Linked DNA regions of Homo sapiens. The protein of the gene in region 2 interacts with the protein of the main gene of each other region in a pairwise test. Each region holds a gene or a part of one and is shown on either strand. Other genes may lie near its edges.

The links. Proteins that work in one complex are often made in the same cells at the same time.
Region 1: the proteins of PIP5K1A (region 2) and CADPS interact in a two-hybrid assay, tested with the Homo sapiens proteins (one large-scale study listed by IntAct).

Annotation. Positions count from the first base shown.
Region 1 is NC_000003.12:62,487,417-62,490,916, reverse strand, and holds part of CADPS (calcium-dependent secretion activator 1), read left to right. Parts: intron 1-3,500.
Region 2 is NC_000001.11:151,233,052-151,236,551, reverse strand, and holds part of PIP5K1A (phosphatidylinositol 4-phosphate 5-kinase type-1 alpha), read right to left. Parts: intron 2,356-3,500; coding exon 2,056-2,355; intron 1-2,055. UniProt on the Homo sapiens protein: Catalyzes the phosphorylation of phosphatidylinositol 4-phosphate (PtdIns(4)P/PI4P) to form phosphatidylinositol 4,5-bisphosphate (PtdIns(4,5)P2/PIP2), a lipid second messenger that regulates several cellular processes such as signal transduction, vesicle trafficking, actin cytoskeleton dynamics, cell adhesion, and cell motility.

The DNA of each region.
Region 1 (3,500 bases), on a different chromosome or scaffold from region 2:
TTTGGAGCCACATAATCTCTGTCACAACTCAACTCTGTCATTGTAGCATGAAAGCAGTCATAGACAGTATGTAAATGAACGAGTGTAGCTGTGTTCCAATGAAACTTTGTTAACAAAACAGGTCCATAGTTTGCCATTGCCTGGTCTAGGCCTTTTAGATGCACCTTTTTAAAAAAAACCTTTATGGCCAAGTATGTTTAGGAAACAATACCTACCCCACTGACCTAGAATTTTGTGTAACTCTGTTTAACCCGGATTTTCCTAAATGTATTTGACAACCGTGTGCTTTTTTTAAAATGGGACATATACCCTGCAGGATAAATTATGGGAAATCTTGTGGGTTGCAAGTTTGTCAATTTCCACAAATGTTTGGCAAATTTTAGGTCTTATTTGAAAATGTTTGGCAGGCTTGGTGCCATCTCCATTCCCCAAATGGGAAGAGGGCTTGACTTGAGGCTCCAGAGGGTCAGTCTCAGACTCCCCTTTCTGAAAAAATAGAGACTCCTATATGGAGAGTTTGATGGTTATGGTTTGATGGTTTGAAAAGCTCCAGTAAAGCCTACTGCTGGATTTGCCTTGTTAGTTTCTTTCTTTCTTTCTTTCTTTCTTTTTTTAAGGAAATCATTTCGTTCATGCTAGTATTTTACATCTTTGGGATGCAGCAAACAGTATGGAGCAAAGTAGAGGGATGTTACAAGCACATTTTAGGAACTCCAGAACAAATATTCATGAGGCCTTTCCTCAGTTTGGAAGCCTTGACTTGCAGCCTATTTTTAAGCAGTTTTCTGAACTGAGACCCTCCTCTAATGTTATACTGTATAAGGCTCTCACTGATAAATTAATGCAAAATAGGCTTTTCTGCCCCCCTTCCACATCTGAGCCACAAGAGGAGTTTCCCTATTGCAGGGAGGTTAATAACCAGTAGCTCCTCCTTTGCAAATACCAAGAAATTTAAATTTTAGTTTGTTATTCTCCAGTTTATAACAGTCTCTTAATATGGCCCTACTGACTTTTCACTCATGAGGGTAGAACTGGATCCCTTGATGGTAAATTATTGAGAGCCTCTATTTTTTTTCAATGTTCAATACAATGAAGACAGTTGTGCTGGAGAATAGCTATTAAGAGGAAAAGGTTAAAATGAGTAATATTTACGTTTTAAAATAACAATGGTCTTGAAATAACATTTACTTACTTGCACTTAAATACGGAGACTACTACTACCAACACACATGGAAGAGAATAATTGGTATCCTTCACTATTCCTTGAAGAGCCCTAGATTTAGTGCCCATTTACTAGCCAGAAGTCAAGGGTTCAAACCTCTATGAACTTGTTTGCTCCCCTGCAAAACTGAAGTTTTAAAAATGTGCCTGTCCAGTGTCTGAGAATTGTCATGGAACTTCGTGATAATGTCACTAAGTCATTTTATAATCTGTTAAATTTCTTAAAAGTCAAACACGGCCGGGTGCGGCGGCTCACGCCAGTAATCCCAGCACTTTGGGAGGCCGAGGCGGGTGGATCACAAGGTCAGGGGATCGAGAACATCCTGGCTAACACGGTGAAACCCCGTCTCTACTAAAAATACAAAAAATTAGCTGGGCGTGGTGGTGGGCACCTGTAGTCCCAGCTACTCGGGAGGCTGAGGCAGGAGAATGGTGTGAACCCAGGAGGTGGAGCTTGCAGTGAGCCGAGATCGCTCCACTGCACTCCAGCCTGGGTGACAGACCGAGATGCCGTCTCAAAAAAAAAAATAATAAAAGTTTAACACATGACTGCTACTTCTTTGGGGGCATTAAATATTCTTAATACCATCAGAAATAAAGATAGACTCAAAAATCATCTTCATACCTGGAAATCTTAGTCTAGGGATGTTTTCTTGGGAATATTTTTACCAATTAAAAAAAAATTTGAACTCTTGCATGGGCAATTTAAAGGTCTGCAAATTGTGAATAAAGGAATAATAGTTGCGAATAATAACCTGAGAATTATGCAGATACGTGTGTGTTTTTTAGTAGCTTTTTGCTATCTAAAATTATGCTGTTAGTGAATATGATTGTGGTTTGTTCAATTCATACTAAATAGTATATGCCTTTCAGAGTCTGTGGAGATCTTTAAAAGTGCCAACTAAGGGCTGGGTGTGGTTGTTCACACTTGTAATCCCAACACTTTGGGGGGCCAAGGCGAGAGGATCACCTGAGGCCAGGAGTTCAAGACCAGTCTGGGCAACATAACCAGACTCCATCTCTACAAAATAAAAAAAGTAGCCAGGCATGGTGGCACAGCATGTAGTCCAAACTACTCAGGAGGCTGAGGTGGGAGGATTGCTTGAGCCCAGGAGTTCAAGGTTACAGTGAGCCATGATCCTGCCACTGTACTCCAGCCTGGGGTGACAGAGTGAGTCCCTATTAAAAAATAATAATAATAAATAAATAAATAAATAAATAAATAATAAAAACAGTGCTAACTAAAATACAAGCTACCACACACACTGTATCAGCCGATTTTTAAACAGAGTGTGGATGCCACGGGGCAGCTTTGCAGAATGGAATAAAATGGAGTGTAAAAAAGAGCTTGGAGACATGTTATGTGCTAAGAGGAGTGACTCTCTCCATGTTTCCTACAACGTGAATAGAAATAAAGTGTGAACTTCCATCTGACTACTTATTGGTGGGTTGATGAAGAAGCAGATTCATTTCTCTTCTTAGATTTTTTTTCCAAGTGAAGAATGATCTTTTTGGCATACTTCTCATCAAGCTCACCCCAAAACAAGAAACTAACTTAGGTAAATAGATTTAGTTTGCTCAGTCTTTTCCATTTTTGCCACAGAATCTTCCAATACATACATACACACACACAGCCTTTCTTTCAAACAATTGTTATCCTCAAGTAGTTCTGTTCTTCTTCTTTTCAAAATTTATAAGCACCTCGTTATAAGTAAAATGAGAAATGCATTGTAATGAAATGCAATGTAATGTTCAAAATAATTAGCATGCAAAATGCTGAAGAAAAATAGCAATCTGACAAGAAAATGCTACCAATGTATTGAGTTTGCTAAAAAGAGAATGAAAAATATCCTTTATTCTTCAGATTTTCTTATTTCAAAATATGGCCCTGTAAAAGAAAATAGATATCATCATTTAGGCTTGATACAATTAAGGTTATTTAAGATGAACAACAAAAACAACAACAACAAAAATAATTGAAGTTATTTGACGGAAAGGGTAAAATGGCTGAGTCCTATGGCAGCCTTTCCCTAGAAAGACAGTCTTCCATCTCTTCGAAAAGAGAAAAGGGAAGCTACATCTCTGTTTCCGTTAAGCCAGACACAGTCATGGTTAGAATCTCTATGAATTGGTGGACAATGTCATCTCTTTGCTTCTAACCATAGCTAAAGATAGTCAGCTTCTCAAAGACAGTCCCAAGTTGTCAATAAAATCTGGAGCCCATGGCCCTCTCATGGGTTTCCATCAGGACATGTAGTAGGGTCACCACTCACAGTTGG
Region 2 (3,500 bases):
GAAGGAAAAAAACATGATCTGAGCCTTGGAAGAAATAAAAATATTTTTCAGGATCTCACAATTTTTTTGTTTTTTTGAGAAAGGGTATCAATCTGTAACCCAGGCTAGAGTGCAGTGGTGTGATCTCGGCTCACTGTAGCTGCAACCTCCCAGGCTCAAAATATCCACCTACTTCAGCCTCCCAAGTAGCTGGGACTACAGGCACACACCACTACACCTGCCTAATTTTTTATTTTTCATAGAGACGGTTTCACCATGCTGCCCAGCTGGTCTCTAATTTCTGGGCTCAAGGGATCTGCCTATCTCAGTCTTCCAAAGTGCTGGGACTATTGGTATGAGCCACCACGCCTGGCTTGACAGCTTTCATGATGTAATTATTTAATTTAGCCTTACAGTGAACCTGTAAGGCTAAATTTTTTTTTTTTTTTTTTTGAGACGGAGTCTTGCTTTGTCGCCAGGCTGGAGTACAGTGGCGCGATCTTGGCTCACTGCAACCTCCAACTCCCTGGTTCAAGCGATTTTCCTGCCTCAGCCTCCCAAGTAGCTGGGATTACAGGCACGTGCCACCACACCCAGCTAATTTTTGTATTTTTAGTAGAGTTGGGGTTTCACCATGTTGGCCAGGCTGGTCTCGAACGCCTGACCTGGTGATCTGCCTGCCTCAGCCTCCCAAAGTGCTGGGATTACAGGCGTGAGCCACCACGCCCGGCCTGGTTAGTCTTTATTTACATACCCTTAGCTTTCTCTCATTTGAGTTAATATAATTTTTCCAAGTCCCACTGCCTAGCCCACAAGACCATCTTTGTTCTTTCCATGTATGTCTCCATGAAGAGAACACTACCTTCTCAAAAGAACAAGGAATACATATTTGTGCTGTGAAGATTCCACAATGAGGTTCTGGTAAAGTACACTTTGTGACAGAACAGATCTGTGGTAGGACCTTGTATGACTAGCTTCAATTCAGTTAAACATTTACTGAATCTCCACCATGTAGGCACTGTGCCTCCTTACAGAGATATAAAGATATTAAAGAGAGAGTTTCTGTCTTCAAGGACATTATACATTTAGAAAGGGATACAAATGTAAAATAAACACAATACAGTTTAATATGTGCAACAGTGGGAAGTGTTCACATGACAGAAGAGTACAGAGGTCAAGAGTGATATCTAGGCCGGGTGCGGTGGCTCACACCTGTAATCCTAGCACTTTGGGAGGCCAAGGCAGGCAGATCATTTGAGGTCAGGAGTTTGAAACCAGCGGGACCAACGTGGTGAAACCCTGTCACTACTAAAAATACAAAAACGACCCAGGCGTGGTGATGGGCGCCTGTAATCCCAGCTACTTGGGAGGCTGAGGCAGGAGAATCGCTTGAATCTGGGAGGTGGAAATTGCAGTGAGCCGAGATCGTGCCATTGCACTCCAGCCTGGGTGACAAGAGTGAAACTCCATCTCAAAAAATAAAAAATAAAGTAAAATGTAGATACATTTATCCATTGGTGACAGGGGCAGCATGAGAGGATGAAATAGGATAAAAAGTTAAGGTAGCTTGTTGAGAAACAAAGCTAGGGAGATGAGAGTCAGAAAATGGTTTGATTAGAATGCCAAACATCTGAAATCCCTATTGAGAGCAACAGCAAATGGACTGAAGATCGATATTGAAAGCCCAAGTGGGGTTGGATATCATAATTCTGTAGATGCCAGTATACACGGTTGTGTAATATTCTTCAGCAGCACTCAGCTTCCAAAATATAAATTTGGATTTGGCAGCCAGGACCAAAATCTGAGGAAGGATGATGTTGGTATGAAAATAAGCAGAACATTTGACTGTGAGGCCCAGGCTAGCTAGAGAAGGAAATAAATCCCATTGTGGGAGGATAAACGGGGAGAAAGTAAAAATGTAAAGGAATGGCAATGAACTAATTAAGACTTATTTTAAATACAGCCCAGGACATACAGTGCTAAGGAACAGAGTTCCATCTCCCACAAACTTAATGCCTAAGAACAATCAAGCTGTTTTAGTAACTGAGATTTTTGATGTCTAAGTAACAAACTCACCAAACAGTCACGCTGCAGGGTCTTACAGAGAGCGTTGTACATGTCAGCATCCAAAAAAAGACCATCAGGGATGTCTTGTAAGAAGTCTAGGTCTTTAAATGTGGGAAGAGGCTTCTCTCGCTCTTTCTGGGAAGCCCGCCGTTTGTAGGTTGAGCCTTTGAGGTCATATTTGATATGCATTTTTACCGATCTTGGTAAAAGATTGTTCATCACCACAATCCGAATGTTCTTGCCACCTGCCTGCACACAGTACAGTCCATAGAATTTAGGCAGCAAAGTCCGAGGGTTCTGGTTGAGGTTCTGAGAACACAAAAGGAAACAGAAGTAGGAGAACAACTTAGCTGATTTTCAGTGAAACTCACCAGTAAAAGTTACCACCCATCCTCCCTTTATCTCCTATATGAGATTTAGACACAATGTGTCCATAAACCTACATCATATATGCTTTACATTTCCCTATGCATCTATTTCAATGGTAAGTTCACCATCAAGCTGTGCCACAGACTCTCCAATACAGAAATCAGCCAGGATACCAATATAAGATGGATATATTTCTTCAGAGAGATTTAAGAGAAGACGACACTCTCTGCCCTGGGTATAGTATATTCTTGGGGATGGTAAGGCAGGTAAGGAGAGTTACCTAACTTCTCCAGAACCTCCAATAGCAATCAGAGTAAGGCTGCAGAGAGTATTACCAAGGGAAATAACCTACCTCATTCCCCAAACTAGAAGCTGAACTAAGAACAGAAGACGAAAATAGCCAGGTGCAGTGGCTCATGCCTGTAACCCCAGCACTTTGGGAGGCCAAACAGGAGGATCACTTGAGCTCAGGAATTTGAGACCAGCCTGGGTAACATAGCAAGACCTCATCTCTACTAAAAATTTATAAAAATTAGGCCGGGCACGGTGGCTCACGCCTGTAATCCCAGCACTTTGGGAGGCCAAGGCAGGCGGATCATGAGGTCAGGAGTTCAAGACCAGCCTGACCAACATGGTGAAACTCCATCTCTACTAAAAAATAAAAAATTAGCTTGGCATGGTGGCGCATGCCTGTAATCCCAGCTACTCAGGAGGCTGAGGCAGGAGAATTGCTTGAACCTGGGAGGCGGAGGTTGCAGTGAGCCGAGATTGTGCAACTGTACTCCAGCTTGGACAACAAAGCGAGACTCCGTCACGAAAAAATAAAAGAAAATAAGTTTATAAAAATTAGCCAGGTGTGGTGGTGCGTGCCTTTAGTCCCAACTACGTGAGAGGCTGAGGTGGGAGGATCACTTGAGCCTGGGAGATCAACAACACTTAAAACAGAACAGATAAACAAAACCCCTTTTACCATAGAGAGGCAAAAGAAATGGGGTGAAAAGCACAAAACTGAACAACATTTTTTTTTTTTTTTTTTTGAGACGGAGTCTTGCTCTGTTACCCAGGCTGGAGTGCAGTGGCAGGAT